Linked DNA regions of Homo sapiens: region 1 is linked to region 2. Evidence: fine-mapped expression QTL. Tissue or cell type: monocytes. Region 2 holds a variant in brackets; the other region holds the start of a gene. All regions are shown on one strand. Distances are between the middles of the regions.

What was found. PIP is the estimated chance that this variant, and not a neighbour inherited with it, causes the effect.
Region 1: it holds the start of SLC4A7, and the variant in region 2 is fine-mapped to the expression of SLC4A7 in monocytes (TOPMed, PIP above 0.99).

The regions. Positions count from the first base shown.
Region 1 is chr3:27,481,278-27,489,444 of GRCh38, forward strand. It overlaps SLC4A7 (solute carrier family 4 member 7), which reads right to left and starts at 3,107. Exons shown (of 26, transcript NM_001321103.2): 1 at 2,790-3,107. The coding sequence starts at 2,849. It also overlaps the pseudogene UBA52P4. RefSeq lists enhancers at 1,846-1,905, 2,066-2,275, 2,306-2,365, 2,381-3,157, 3,636-3,765 and silencers at 2,536-2,605, 2,636-2,995, 3,026-3,505.
Region 2 is chr3:27,557,135-27,565,337 of GRCh38, forward strand. No RefSeq gene overlaps it. Among named protein-coding and RNA genes, the nearest start is that of SLC4A7, 77 kb to the left of the region's middle. The variant T/C (reference allele first, on the strand shown) is at 3,653.

The sequences.
Region 1 (8,167 bases), 76 kb before region 2:
CTATCCCAACACCCTGATCAGTGAAAATTAGAGAATTTTAGGAGCAGAAGCAACCATAGAGGCTAAACTATGAAACAGATGGGCTCCAATTTCAGAGTAATATAAACTGCCACCAATCTATTCAACATTTTTTTGCATAATTACAAATCTAAGATGGGATTTTATGAATATTAATTTGTTCTACTTTTTTGGCTATGCTGAGCAGTCTGCTGCGAGTTAGAGTTATGACTGATGAATATCATGATCTCTCACTTTTACGACTTTTATTTACCAAAACTGGGTGAGCGAAGATTTAATTTTATCAACGCCAATAGTTCCTCTTTCCTGTTTTCAAATCAGTTCAACCTACAGCTTTACTATTCTCCCATTCTATTCGTAGACTATATGCTAGTTTACTGTATTTGATTTCTATTATTGATTTATATATGTTAACAGTAGCCAAGCCTTATCTTCTCAAAGACTTAGGAGGTTTACCCTTCTAAAGTGCTCCCCTACCACGTCATTAACAGCAGTGTTTAATAATTCCTTTGTCATCTGTCTCCCAACTCAAATATCACTTCTATTAGGATAGAGTTGGGTAGGGTGCCATGGCTTACACCTGTAATCCCAGCACTCTGTGAGGCCGAGGTGGGTGGATCACCTGAGGTCAGGAGTTCGAGACCAGCCTAACCAACAGTGAAATCCCATCTCTACTAAAAATACAAAATTAGCCGAGTATGGTGGCACATGCCTGTAATCCCAGCTACTCGGGAGGCTGAGGCCGAAGAATCACTTGAACCCAGGAGGCAGAGGTTGCAGTGAGGCGAGATCAGGCCATTGCGCTCCAGCCTGGGTGACAGAGCGAAACTCCGTCTCAAAAATAAATAAATAAATATTAGGATGGAGTTGGTTCTGCCTTGTTGGCCACTACAGTAAATAGTGTAAATAATAGTTTAAATAGCATAAACACTAGTCTAAATAAGTGTTATTACAATGAATGAATGAATAACTTGGAGGGCAATGGCCTTATCACATGCTTTCTCTACTAGCTAGGCAGGCAATATTTGAGAACACACCATAGTTTCTATCCAGCTCCGTGAAAACTCGAATGCACTTTACTGCTCAATTGAAAATTTGCAAATAAATTTAAGAACAGACAACATCATACTTGAAATACACAGAGAAAGTACTATAAAACAGTTTATTCAAAGGCTACACAAAGAATTACAGAAGGCCAGGCGCGGTGGCTCACGCCTGTAATCCTAGCACTTTGGGAGGCCGAGGCGGGTGGATTGCCTGAGGTCAGGAGTTCCAGACCAGCCTGGACAACATGGCAAAACCCCGTCTCTACTAAAAATACAAAAAATTAGCTGGGCATAGTGGTGCGTGCCTGTAATTCCTGCTACTCCGGAGGCTGAGGCGGGAGAATCGGTTGAACCTGGGAGGAGGAGGTTGCAGTGAGCCGAGATCGCACCACTGCATTCCAGCCTGGGCGACAGAGCGAGACTCTGTCTCAAAATAATAATAATAATAATTACAGATTATTTAGGATGAGTTTCCAGTATTCCATTACCATCACTGTGAATTATCTTCCAATAACCACTGCTAAATGACTTCACTGTCTGGTGACTGAGTTTTCTTCTATGTTAGAGAACTTATATGAACGTACTGAACTAATGAATGACTACTTTCCATAACCTTAACTATAATCCTAAAAGTTAAAAGGGAAAGCCGGCAGGCAGTTTTAAAGACAACTCTTGAATAAAAACATAGGAGAAGTAATTTTCCTCTTAGTTGTGAAAGACCGGACAATTTTCCCTGCAACCTTCCCGCCTTTGCTGGTTGCATAGTAAAAATTAGAAGTAGGAAAATTTAGAATACTTCCATCTCCTTTGAGTCACGAACTTGGAAAGGAGAAAGAGACAACTGCGGGGACGCATGTGCTCTAAAGAAAGCAGGAAGTCCGCTTCTTGAGCATGGGCCGTTCACCCATCATCACAAATGGGAACACCGGCCTTAAGTCCATCCCCATTCTCTTCTAACCCTGAAATCAAAGCCAGTCTCAGTAGGAAACGCGATCTTGCTAGCTGAGTTAGAGAAGGAGCACCAGACAGCTCAGGACACCCTCCTCCTTCTACTTGGCCTGCGGCAGGAGGATACTCCCCGGGTCCCAGCCAGTGGAGAAGGCGGACCCGGCAGGCAACAGCGAAAGAGCCTTGGCCGGGAAGGAGCGCGGCCAGTCCACGCGGCCGGAGAACTCACCGAACAAAGCGCACCGCGGAGCGGGAGGGGACACTCGGAAAGAGGGGGAAAGATTCAACCAGCTCTTCACCACTGCCTGGGGCTAGAGACAGGTGGAGCCGCCGTCCTCCTTAGAAGGAGAAGAAAGATAGGTTTTCGAGGGCTAATCTGAAACTCCTGCGCCAAGGCAACCGGAACCGGGACCCCGCCTGGGGAGCGCGCTAAGAAACAGGGGAGGCGAGCGCTGAGGGAAGGGATGGATGGTCGGGGTCACAGGCGGCCTCTGCGGGGATGTCGGGGTCCCGCCTGAGCCGCGCAGAGGATGCCCGCGGCGCGCCGCCGGCCGCCCCGACTCGGGCCTCCCGAGCGCAGCCGCTGGCCCCCTCCCACCCGCGCCCCAGGCCGCCACACAAAGGGGATGGCGAGGCGCGCCGGCCGCCGGGAGGTGGAGGGGCGACGGGCCTGGGACGAGGTGGCCGAGCCGCGACGCCCGCCGCGCCCCCCGCCTTTGTCTGCCTCGCCCCGCGCCCTCCCCCTGCGGAGGAGCCCCACCGCCGCGGCGCCCTCACCCTGCTCGTTACCCGGGTGAGTAGCGGTCTCATCTGCTCGCCGGCCCCATCAGCCTCCATGGCCGGCCGGCCAGCCCGTGACGGCCGCTACGGTACTGCCCCGCGCGGTCTGCCTGCTTCTGCCGCTGCCCCTGCCGCCGCCGCCGAGCCCCCGGCGCGCGAGGACAAACGTGGGTGCGTCCGTGCGCGAGGTGTGCGCGCGTGGGGAGAGCCGGGCGCCGGGCGCGGGAGACGCGGGGCGTGCGTGTGCGCGCTGCGACTGCTGGGCTGGCTTTAGTAGGAGAGCGAGGCCGCGGCGTGGAACCTGAAGCTAGAACTGAGCGAACCGGCGGACCGAGCGGGAAGGAGGAGAGCCGCGTAGGAGGAGGGGTTCGGGGGCGGAGCCGCAAACCGTGACGAGCCCGGCGCCGGGGCCAGGCAAGACACGCCCCCCCGCCCCGCCTCCTCGGGTCACGCCCCCTGCCAGTCTGGCACCGCCAGCCTCCTCAGCGCGCCCGCGGGCCGCGCCGCTAGGCCACCGGGAGATGGGGCGGGAGGGAGGCGGGACGGACATTTGTCCCAGCCAATCGGCGGCTGGCGGACTTCCGCTCGCCTCCCCCGTGCCACCTCCTCAGGACGCACCGCCCCTCTTTGTATAAGCTTAATTGACCGAAGCTGAGCGTCTAACTAGTTTTTCAAGTCGGAAGCTCCCCTGACGTTCTCAATGGGGTGGGGGGTCACCACCTCCCTTGGCTCCTAACTACATTCTTTAGAGGCTGCAGGGAAGGAGGACGCCACCTCTGTCAAGGACGCCCAGGATAACCCTCCGAAGCAACTAACGAGTCTTCACGACTCCTGGAAGTTTCTTTTCTGTCAATCCAGTAGGCACGAACCCCAACTCAGGGACCGTGAAAGATGGGGTACACTTGACCAGGTGTCCTCCTGTGCTTGCTCGCCCACTGAGCACCACGACAGCTGCCACTTTTTTTTTTTTTTTTTTTTTTTTTGAGACAGAGTCTTGCACCAGCCCAGGTTGGAGTGCAATGGCATGATCTCGGCTCACTGCAACCTCCGCTGCCTGGGTTCAAGCTATTCTCCTGCCTCAGCCTCCTGAGTAGCTGGGACTACAGACGCGCGCCACCACGCCCGGCAACTTTTTGTATTTTTAGTAGAGACGGGGTTTCACCATGTTGGTTAGGCTGGTCTCGAACTCCTGAGCTAAGGTGATCCACCAGCCTCAGCCTCCCAAAGTGCTGGGATTACAGGCATGAGCCACCACACCCGGCCAGCTGCCACATTATTGAGTCCACCCTGTAGGCCGTCTCTCAAATATCCCTTCTGTAACGGGATGATTGTAATACCTGCCATGCAGGCTCATTGAAGGATTAAGGGGATTTATATTCATAAAAGTGCCTGGCACATAGCATGCTGATAATTTTCATTATTGTTAACAGGTTTCTCTTGAGTGTTTCATAAAGATGAGAAATTTGGCCGGGCGCGGTGGCTTACGCCTGTAATTACAGCAGTTTGGGAGGCCGAGGCGGGCGGATCACCTGAGATCAGGAGTTCGAGACCAGCCTGACCAACATGACGAAACCCCGTGTCTACTAAAAATACAAAAATTAGCCAGGCATGGTGGCAGGCACCTGTAATCCCAGCTACTCAGGAGGCTGAGGCAGGAGAATCGCTTGAACCCAGGAGGCAGAGGTTGCAGTGAGCTGAGATCACGCCACTGCACTCCAGCCTGGGTGACAGAGCTAGACCCTGTCTCAAAAAAATAAAAAATAAAATAAAAAAAGATAAGGAGAGGTTTAGTTGGGAAGAACTGAAGCCATGCAATGGAAGGATATATAAATACATCAGCGGATCCAGAGCTCACATCCTATTCATCTCCAACTGGGTATTAGTAAAGCTTTTTGTCAGCAATAGGTAGCTAGGTATGCTGGATGACTCATTCCTTCTTTGGGCCCTAGTCCCCTTTTGTCCTAAATTTCCCAGAGAGTTACTTCCAGTCCAGCACACATTGTTCACTTACTTGTACAAGAGCAGATGTGCCTCTATTAATAGCTACTATGTAAAGAGGCCTACAATTAGAGACTGTGACATTTGGCAAACATATTTCATTTCTAATCCTCTCAATACTGCAAAATATCTGCCGTCATCTTTTTCTTCGGCAAGGCAACTGAGCTGCAGACGCAGAGACGCAGATCTTTGTGAAGACCCTCACGGGCAAGACCATCACTCTTGACGTCAAGCCAAGTGACACCATTGAGAATGTCAAAGCCAAAATTCAAGACAAGGAGGTATCCCACCTGACCAGCAGCATCTGATACTTGCTGGCAAACAGCTGGAGGATGGCCGAACTCTCTCAGACTGCAACATCTGGAAAGAGTCCACCCTGCACCTGGTGCTGCGCCTGTAAGGTGGCATTATTGAGCCTTCCCTCTGCCAGCTCTCCCAGAAATACAACTGTGACAAGATGATCTGCCGCAAGTGCTATGCTTGCCTGCACCCCCGTGCTGTCAACTGCTGCAAGAGGTGTGACCACACCAACAACCTGTAACCCAAGAAGGTCAAGGCTCTTCCTTCCTCGAACGGCAGCCTCCCTGGAGCCTCAATAAAGTGTGTCTCTTTCGTTGACTGGAGCAGCAAAAACAAACAAACAAAAAAACAATACTACAAAATATGTTATAGCTCCATTTTACAGATGAGGAAGCTGAAGCCCATAGAAATACTGGTTTTGAGTTCTGGTGAGTGGAACTGCTCTTACTATTGGCACCATTCTTTTTTATTTATTTATTTTTGAGATGGAGTCTCACTCTGTTGCCCAGGCTGGAGTACAGTGGCACAATCTCGGCTCACTGCAACCTCCATCCTCCAGGTTCAAGCAATTCTCCTGCCTCAGCCTCCAGAGTAGCTGGGATTACAGGCGCCCGCCACCACACCTAGCTAATTTTTTGTATTTTTAGTAGAGATGGGGTTTCACCATGTTGGCCAGGCTGGTCTAGAACTCCTGACCTCCAGTGATCCACCTGCCTCGGCCTCCCAAAGTGCTGAGATTACAGGTGTGAGCCACCGCATCTGGCTATAACATTCTATATATTTTATGATTTATTATGCTTATTGTCTACACACACACACACACACACACACGCACAAATGTGAGCTCCATGTAAGCTTCATGTGTACAGCAAATTTGGTTTTTGGTTTTTGGTTTTTTCTCAGATATCCCTATGCCTACGTGAGTGTTTGGCCCCTGTAAACTCTCAGCACATGTGTTAAATGAGTAAATGTACAGGTGGGGCATACATCTGCTCTTCTTAAGATCTAAGAGCATCTTAGGTGACAGCTGAGCATGTGGCCATAGTAACAAGAACAAAGTAGGAGTCAAGAATCATGGTGCCAGAGTTGAAAGTGTTAAATAGTCAGCTTCAAGAAGGTCTTAAAAATGTATGCTTGGCAGACCTTGCTAAACAATGAATTTCTGTTCATCTATCTTGCAAGAAGAAAAAATTATTGGTTTATTTAATCCACAAATATTTTTTTAGTGACGTCTTTGTTGCCATGCACTTTTTCCACTCCTCATTTCATCCCAACTGCTAGAAGAGGAATGTAGCAAAGATCTGAATTATTAAATTTATCACTCAGTTGCCCACTTAATTCAACCTCAGCCAAAGTTCATTCAAGAAGATAATGTGTTAAAATTGCTTTTGTGCAACCAGAGATGGCTATAAAGTGTTCCAAGGTGCTGAAAGGTAAATTGTATTCTTGAATATTTTAAATATTCATCTGGGGCCAGGTGCAGTGGCTCATGCTTGTAATCCCAACACTTTGGGAGGCCAAGGCAAGTGGATCACCTGAGGTCAGGAGTTTGAGACCAGCCTGGCCAACACGGTGAAACCCTATATCTACTAAAAATACAAAAATTAGCTGGGCATGGTGGCAGGCACCTATAGTCACAGCTACTCAGGAGGCTGAGACAGGAGAATTGTTTGAACCCCGGAGGCCAAGGTTGCAGTGAGCCAAGATCACGCCATTGCACCCCAGCCTGGGGCACAGGTCCAGACTCCGTTTCAAAAAAAAAAAATTAATTTGAAATATGGCACAGGGAAACATTTGCTAAACAAAGGTAAATGTAAACCTAAATTCATCAGTAGCAATGAAGTGGTAGTACCTAAAGTTAATGAGTTTTAGCTGTATCCTAAATTCAGAATACTTCCTGAGTATCTGGAGCAGTAGATAATCCTAAAAACCCCTTGGCAAGATCCCCATCCTGAGGAGTGAACGGTCTTCCCAAGAACAATTCTCTATAGGCCAAGGTATAGTTTATAAAGACAGAGAGCAGCTTCTTTGGTATTTTGAAAAGTGTGAAACCATTCTTTTTTTTTTTTTTTTGAGGCGGAGTTTCACTCTTGCTGTCCAGGCTGGAGTGCAATGGTGCAATCTCGGCTCACTGCAACCTCTGCCTCCCTGGTTCAAGCAATCCTCCTGCCTCAACCTCCCAAGTAGCTAGGATTACAGGCACGTACCACCATGCCTGGCTAATTTTGTATTTTTTAGTAGAGACGGGGTTTCTCCATGTTGGTCAGGCTGGTCTCAAACTCCTGACAACATCAGGTGATCTGCCCACCTCAGCCTCCCAAAGTGCTGGGATTACAGGTGTGAGCCACCGCACCTGGCCACGTGAAACCATTCTTAACTTTTAGCAGAGGGTTCTTTGGCAATTATATGTATCTTCATTGCCTCTTCTTGGTTATAGCTAATATTTAAAGGTTTTCTATCATCTGATCCTATAAGGAAAAGTAAAATCATTGGAATAGTGTTTTCAAGAGTACCAGAACAGCCTCAACGGGACAAAGACACAAGGAAAATTACTTCATTGTTCTTTATTTCTATAGGCTAGGCATACAGATAAATATTCAAAAGATGAGGAAATAAAAACAAAAACAGAACTTGTCCCTGATCTCATGGAGTTCAGAGTGCAAAACACCAATATATAAACAACTGTCAACAATGCAATGCATGTAGTTCTGAGTCCACCACGCTCAGCCAAAAGCCTCCTTTTAGAAGATGTTTTAGGGATAATAGTGGTACCCTCCTCAAGGGAATTGCAATAAATATTAAATGAGGGCATCAAATATAGCACCTACATGCAAGAAACACTCAATAAATGCTTATAATTATTATCTGATTGGGAAACCACAAGGTGGGAGAAAGGTGGGCTCAGGTTCATGTAAAGGGAAAGGCCTTGTATACCGGGCCCCTGAGGAATTTATATTCTCATTAGAGTGAAAACTCCTCAAGTGCGGGATGTTCCTTGTCACTGGGAACATCCCAGAGTGCCTGGCACATAGTGGGCATCAAAAATATGTTGAATGAATAAGTGCTAAGGAAATTGG
Region 2 (8,203 bases):
ATACTAATAGTATCTAACATTTATAGCACTTTCACAGTTTACAAAGTCTTCTTCCATATAATCCTCACAGCAGTTCCGAGCCGAAGTGACTTGCCATGGCTCACCTGTAGCTAAGTGGCACAGCTAGGATATAAACACAGGTTTTCTGAATCTGGCCTTCAGTTCTAACTGTGCACTGGACAGGGCATGTAATGGTAGCTGCTGAAACTAATGACATCCATGTTTCAGTGGTGGAACGCAGTAAAGTTGATTCCTCATTCTTGTCACAGCAATATGGGTTGATGGGGCTGGGGATTCTGCTCCATGTAGTCACGCAGAGACTCATGTTCTTTCTACCTGTGCATTAATATCTTCTACATGTGGCCTCCAAAGCTACTAGAGAATGGGAAATAGTGGGAGATCACACATGGGAGCTTTTTATGGGCCAGGCCTGGAAATGGCTCACATCACTTTTGCTCATGTCCTTTGGCCAAAACCCAATCTCAGCAAGGAAGGCCAAGATGTAATTCAACTGTTTTCCCAGATCCACAGCCTTGGGAAAGTAGAACTGAGAACTTTGTCTTTTAGTACTTTAGTTTATCAGGCCTCCGTGAAGTCCCTTCTGCTGAGGAGGCCATGCTGAGCAGTCTCTGGAAGTTTTTTATTTTCCTTCCCATGTGATCCTTTTGCTTCTCTGAGCTCCCAGAACTCCTCTTTCTTTATTCCTCCTACTTTTCAAACCTTTCTCAGAGGCTGTTTTAAGATATATAATGTTATCTTCTTATTTTCTGTAACTTTTCACTTGTGTATTTCTCCCTGACATGAAACATAAACTCTTTAAAAGCAGAATTGTATCTACTATTGCAATACTGTGAGATACATTTCCTCTAGTCACCTTAATCAACCCTCCACTTCATCCAAAGAAATTAAATTCTGCCAAAATTGATGGAGGCTTATTATGTACAAGGTGCTATGCTTGGTGCCATTGGAAGAAGCAAAGAGGAATTAGGAATGGGTCTTTAAAAGCTTGTAAAAAAAAAAGGCTATACGTGAAAGTACAATCAAGAATGTAGAAATACACTGATAAGAAAATATAGTTGGAAGAGGCTGATTCTGAATTGACGGAAAGGGGACTGGAAAAGTTTTCACTGAAGAAATTATAAACATGATAGAAGTAGCTAGCAGTTGTCGAACTTTTCCTATAAGCCAGGCACTGTATTGGAGTGTTTTATATATGTCACACCATGTCATTCTCATAACAATCTTATGAGAGGGCACTGTCATTGTTCCCATTAACCAAATAAGAACAAACATGGGGAGAATTTGCTATAAAGGACGTTTCTGGGTCAATTGGTGAGATGTCAATATGGACTGTAGATTAGATAGATAATCGTATTATTGTATGAATGCTAAATCTCTTGATTTTGATCATTATTTTCTGGTTATATAAGGAATGTCCTTGTTTTTTTTTTTTTTGAGAAGGAGTCTCGCTTTGTTGCCCAGGCTGGAGTGCAGTGGTGTGATCTTGGCTTACTGCAACCTCTGCCTCCCAGGTTCAAGCAATTCTCTGCCTCATCCTCCCAAGTAGCTGGGATTACAGGCGCTCGCCACCACGCCCAGCTAATTTTTGTAATTTTAGTAGAGACTGGGTTTCACCATCTTGGCCAGGCTGGTCTTGAACTCCTGACCTTGTGATCCACCTGCCTCAGCCTCCCAAAGTGCTGGGATTACAGGCATGAGCCATTGCACTTGGCCAGGAATGTCCTTGGTTTTTTTTTTTTTTTTTGGAGGTGGAGTTTCACTCCTGTTGCCCAGCAACCTCTGCCTCCCGGGTTCAAGCCATTCTCCTGCCTCAGCCTCCCGAGTAGCTGGGATTACAGGCATGTGCCACCATGTCCGGCTAATTTTGTATTTTTAGTAGAGACGGGGTTTCTCCATGTTGGTCAGGCTGGTCTTGAACTCCTGACCTCAGGTGATCTGCCTGCCTCGGCCTCCCAAAGTGCTGGCATTACAGGCGTGAGCCACCTTACCCAGCCGAATGTCCTTGTTAATAGGAAATTTACTCTGAAGTATTTAGGAATAAAGGGGCATGATGTCATAAATTTCCTCTCAAATACTTCAGAAAACTGTAATAATTAGATGTGTGTGCATTCATGTGTATGGAGAGAGAGAGAGAGAAGGAAAGAATGATAAAACAAATGCAGCAAAATGTTAACAATTGGTGACATATGGCAGGTTGGGCTGCTATAACAGAATACCACGGACTAGGTGGCTTACACAACAGAAGTCTATTTTTTTTATAGTTCTGGAGGATGGAGGTCCAAGATCAAGGTACAGCATGATCAGGTTCTAATAAGAACTCTCTTCCTGGCTTACAGATGGCTGTCTTCTTACTGTGTTCTCACATGGCAGGGGGGTAGCAAGTTCTCTGGTGCCTCTTCTTCTAAGGGCACTAATTCCATTATGAGACCCAACTCTCATGACCTCATCTAAACCAAATCACCTCCTAAAGGCACCAGGCTAAATACCATCACACTGAGGGTTGGGGCTTTAACATATGAATTGTGGGGAGACACCATTCAGTCCATAGCAGTGAGTGATGGGTATAGTGGAAATTTTGTACTATTTTTGCTACTTCCTGTAAGTTTAGAATTATTTAAAAATAAGAAGGTAAAAGAAAAAAGAAAAAACATTGGCATAAAGTGTTTTACCCAGGTCACGCAGCTGGTGAGTGGTAGGAAATGGTCTTTTCCTATGTTCTTTAGAACCCACTCTCTTAGATGCTGCACGGACACAGATGCTTTGTGACTTCTCATATCCTCTGGCATGGTCCACCTCCTCAATCATACCGCAGCTGAGGACAAACTAGGCCCTCCCCCTTGGCTAGTGCTCTGCAGCTGGATCAAGCAGACGCTCTTCCAGAATGTCTGGCTTCTCCCACTGCTTCCGGATTTGGATGAAATGCTGTGCTGCAGGGCATAGGATCAGATAGGCAAAAGGAAAGAATGATGCAAGCAGGAATGCAAGGTAGTTTCTGCCTGCAGAGCAAACTTTCGCCAATTAGGGCCGTGTGCAGTGGCTCATGCCTGTTATTCCAGCACTTTGGGAGGCCAAGGTGGGCGGATCACCTGAGGTCAGAAGTTCCAGACCAGACTGGCCAACGTGGCTCTACTAAAAATACAAAAATTAGCTGGGCGTAGTGGTGGGCGCCTGTAATCCCAGCTACTCCGGAGGCTGAGGCAGGAGAATTGTTTGAACTCTGGGAGGCAGAGGTTGCAGTGATCCGAGATCGCGCCATTACACTCCAGCCTGGGTGACAAGGTGAGACTCTGTCTCAAATAAAACAAAACAAAACCGCAACAACAAAAAACACACTTTGGCCAACTGGAAGCGGGAGACAGGGTTTCGTCTACCTTCCTCTCTTCCACGGACAACCTCAATGTGAGAGAAGTTCTGTGTGCTGAGCACGCACCCGCACAACAGAGTAAAACATTACTTTATATTGCAATTTTATATTATTATTGCACTTTATATATTACCTTAATATAGTATTATAATATTATAATTATATAACATTAATATATATTAATATATAATATATACATTATATTATTGCACTTTATATTGCACTTTATATATTACTTTATATTGTGCAATATATTACTTTATATTG[T/C]ACAACAGAGTAAAACATTACTTTATATTGCTCCACATCTTTTCTTGCCCCACTTCCCCTTTTCCCCATCCCAGCTGCTGTGGGTTTGCACTTCTCAAAGGAAGCATTAGCACTTTAATCCCTGCCTTGGGCTCTGTTTTCTAGAGTACTAGGGCTAATTAGAGAAAAAAAAAAAAAAAAAAAAAAAGGGCCGGGCACGGTGGCTCCTGCCTGTAATCCCAGCACTTTGGGAGGCCGAGGGGAGGCGGGCGGATCACGAGGTCAGGAGATCGAGACCATCCTCGCTAACATGGTGAAACACCATCTCTACCAAAAACACAAAAAATTAGCCGGGCGTGGTGGCAGGCGCCTGTAGTCCCAGCTATTCAGGAGGCTGAGGCAGGAGAATGGCGTGAACCTGGGAGGCGGAGCTTGCAGTGAGCTGAGATTGGGCCACTGCACTCCAGCCTGGGTGACAGAGCAAGACTCTGTCTCAAAAAAAAAAAAAAAAAAAAAAAAGGCCGAGCACGGAGGCTCACGCCTGTAATCCCAGCGCTTTGGGAGGCCGAGGTAGATGGATCACCAGGTCAGGAGATCGAGACCATCATGGCCAACATGGTGAAACCCCGTCTCTACTAAAAATATGAAAATTAGCCGGATGTTGTGGTGCGTGCCTGTAGTCCCACATATTCAGGAGGCTGAGGTACGAGAATCAGTTGAACCCAGGAGGCGGAGGTTGCAGTGAGAATTGCACTCCAGCCTGATGACAGAGTGAGACACTCCGTCTCAAAAAAAAAAAAAAAGAAAAGACTATGCTGTACTGCCCCTAATTTGAGCTGAGTCCTAAAGACAGGTAATATTTTGACAGCCAGAAATTTGAGAGAAAGGCAATACAAAAAGAAGGAATGGCTTTATTTATTTTTGAGACAGCATCTCGCTTTGTCATCCAGGCTGGAGTACAGTGGCATGATCATGGCTCATCACAGCCTCACACTCCTGAGCTTAAGCAATCCTCCCACTTCAGCCTCTTGAGTAGCTGGGACTACAAGCGGGTGCCACCATGCCCAGATGATTTTTTAATTTTTAAAATTTTTTTGTAGAGACAAAATTTGCTATGTTGCCTAGACTGGTCTCGAACTCCTGGCCTCAAGAGAGCTTCCTGCCTTGGCCTTCCAAAATGCTGGGATAACAGGCATGAGCCACAGCCAGGCCAAGAAATAGGAGTGGTCTTAGGTAAAGCATGAGGGATAACAGTAAATGGCTTGCTGAGGCTGTAGTATGGGGCAGGCGGGTGGTAATGGGATACAGGGAATGAATTGAGATGCAATAAGGTTGGGCACGGTGGCTCATGCCTGTAATCCCAGCACTTTGAGAGGCCAAGGCGGGAGGATCACCTGAGGTTGGGAGTTCAAGACAAGTCTGACCAACATGGTGAAACCTCGTCTCTACTAAAAAAATTAGCCGGTTTAGTGGTGAGCGCCTGTAATCCCAGCTACTCAGGAGGCTGAGGCAGGAGAACAGCTTGAACCCAGGAGGCGGAGGTTGTAGTGAGCCAAGATCGCACCATTGCACTCCAGCCTGGGCAACAGAGCAAGACTCTGTCACACACACACACACACACACACACACACACACACACAGATGCATTAAAAGATGATTGGCTTAAATGCCTGCTGTAGAGTTCAGACAACATTCTGTGGGCATTAGTGAGCCATGAGGACTTTTTGAGGTAGGATGAATAAAATAATAATAAGAATGGTGATGACAATAAGTATGAGGATGATAATAGTAGCATTACTAATGAAAACTAATGTTTATTAAATACTTATTAATACTATTTGCTCATCTTTGTACTAAGCATTTTTCATAAATTACTTCCTTTTATTCTATCAATAATCCTATGACATGGGTACTGTTATTATTCCCTAAAGCTTAGAATGGTTAATAAACTTGGTCAACGTTACACGGATTTTGAACCCTAGAATGCCACGCACTTTGCCACCAGAGCTAGTTTTAGGAACATAATTTTGGGAAAAGTGTGAAAGCTAAAGACATTAGAAGTAGGGCTGCTCATAGTCAAAGATTTTTCCAGCTTTTTTTTTTTTTTTAAATAAAAGATAGAAAGAAATGCGAAACACAACTTTCCTTGTCCATATTTATTTTATTTATTTATTTATTTATTTTCTTGAGACAGTGAGGCATGATCTCAGCTCACTGCAACCTCCACCTCCTGAGTTCAAGCAATTCTCCTGCCTCAGCTTCCCGAGTAGCTGGGATTACAGGCATGCGCCACCATGCCCAGCTAATTTTTGTATTTTTAGTAGACACGGGGTTTCACCATGTTGACCAGACTGGTCTCGAACTCCTGGCCTCAGATGATCCACCTGCCTTGGCCTCCCAAAGTGCTGGGATTACAGGCGTGAGCCACCACGCAGGGCATATTTTCTCCCTCTTTTGTTTTACTTCAGCCACATTGGACCCCTAGCTGTTCCATAAACACCTCAGGCTCACCCTCACCTGAGGGCCTTTGTACTTGGTGCTCCACATATCTGGAAATCCTCACCCCTCCCCTAACCACACCTAGCACTTCCTAGCTTCCTTCCCTGTTTCATAGTAATCCTTGGGTTGCTATAACAAAATACTACAGACTGAGTGGCTTAGCAACAACAGAAATTTACTTGTTACAGTTCCAGAGGCTGGAAAATCCAACATCAAGGCTCCCGCAGATTAGAAATCTGTGGAGGGCCTGCTTCAGGTTCTTAGACAGCAGCTGTCTTCTTACTGTATCCTCAGATGGTGGAAGAGGCAAGGAAGCTCCCTGGTGTTCCTTTATATGGACAGAAATGTCATTCATGAGAGCTCTGCCATTATGTCCTAATCACCTCCCCAAAGACCCTACCTCTTAATACCATCACCTTGGGGGTTGGATTTCAACATATGAATTTGTTGGGACGGGGGGCAGCAAAAACATACGCACCATAACAGTCACTGTCTAACATACTGTGTCTTCTAACCAGCTCTTCTGTTTAGGATCTGTGTGCCTCCACCAGTAGAATGTAAGCTCTACTGTGTTCACTGTTGGGATGCTTTAGCATTCAAAACAATATCTGCCATATGGTAAAATTCAGTACAGTAAGTGGTTGTCAAGTTAATTAATTAACTTTTGGGGGTGATTGTTCTGCAAGGCACTTTGCTATTGCATTAGCTCAGGATGAAAAAGATAGGAGGTCTTGGAAGCCCAGGCCTCTGTGGGTCTCCCTGTAAAACAGCAAAGGGTTTAGTTACATTACTAATTTTTTTTTTTGAGACGGAGTCTCATTCTGTTGCTCAGGCTGGAGTGCAGTGGTTTGATCTCGGCTCACTTCAACCTCCAACTCCCAGGTTCAAGCGATTCTCCTGCCTCAGCCTCCCAAGTAGCTGGGATTACAGGCGTGTACCACGATGCCCGGCTAATTTTTGTATTTTTAGTAGAGACAGGGTTTCACCATGTTGGCCAGGCTGCTCTCGAACTCCTGACCTCAGGTGATCCACCTGCCTTGGCTTCCCAAAGCGCTGGGATTACAGGCGTGAGCCATGGTGCCTGGCCTAGATAAATTACTTTTGTGATGCATAGGTCAGACCATTCTTCAGGACTGAAGGTCTTATTTCCTCAGCTGACAGCCTTTTTGGGAGATTATCTCAGCTGAAGAGAGGTGCCTCGTCAATTGTCACAATTTTGTCTCAGGGCAGCCCAAATCCAGTGACTGATGTGTGTAAATTTTAGAGGCCCTGACCTCTTGCCTCGGTGTAGGACAATTCTGAAGTGTCCCCCATCTTTAGAACTCCCGTGGGGTTGGCTGTGGCCTTCATCATGTCTGTGTGGTAGCTCCACTTCTTCCTGTGCCCAATTTTGCTTCATTTTCTTTCCTTCCACAGGTGTGGATGGCAAATGCACTCCCCCATACACTTCCTGCACACTAACTCCATCTCAGAGGCTGCTTCCCAGGGAACCCTACCTGGGATAACTCCCCAAATCAAGATGCTTCTCTATTTCTGATGTTTAGACTCACAAAGACTGACTCTTTGTCATAAGAGGGAAAAACAGACTGCCTCCTGGAAAAGTCAATTAGCTTAATAAAGGCCAAGAGGTAATATACCTCGGAACTCTCAAAATCAATGGCACGCCATTACTGAGGAAATACAAAACATATCCAAGCAGTTCTAAAGAAAGGGATTGTTATCTTTGGGGTTTTGGGAATTTTAGTGTCATGTCCAGATAACATATACTCTTTTAACTGGGGCCTCCTGAAGATAGCTCATGCCCTTTTATGAGAATGCTGGGAAGACCATAGTCTTCTCTGTACCTTGGCATCTAAAAATAATCAGAGTTAATGGAGTCTAACTTTCGGGAAGCCTGAGGCAGGGAGGGGTAAAGTGAAGCAGTTACAGGTTTTTACACATACTTCTGTGTTATTTCAACATTTCGGGAGAAAATATTTAGGTTTACTTTTCCAAGTCAAATCAACAAAAAATTTAAAGACTAAAATAAAATACATGTTTTCTGAACATCATTGAATCTGGGGACACAGGAGT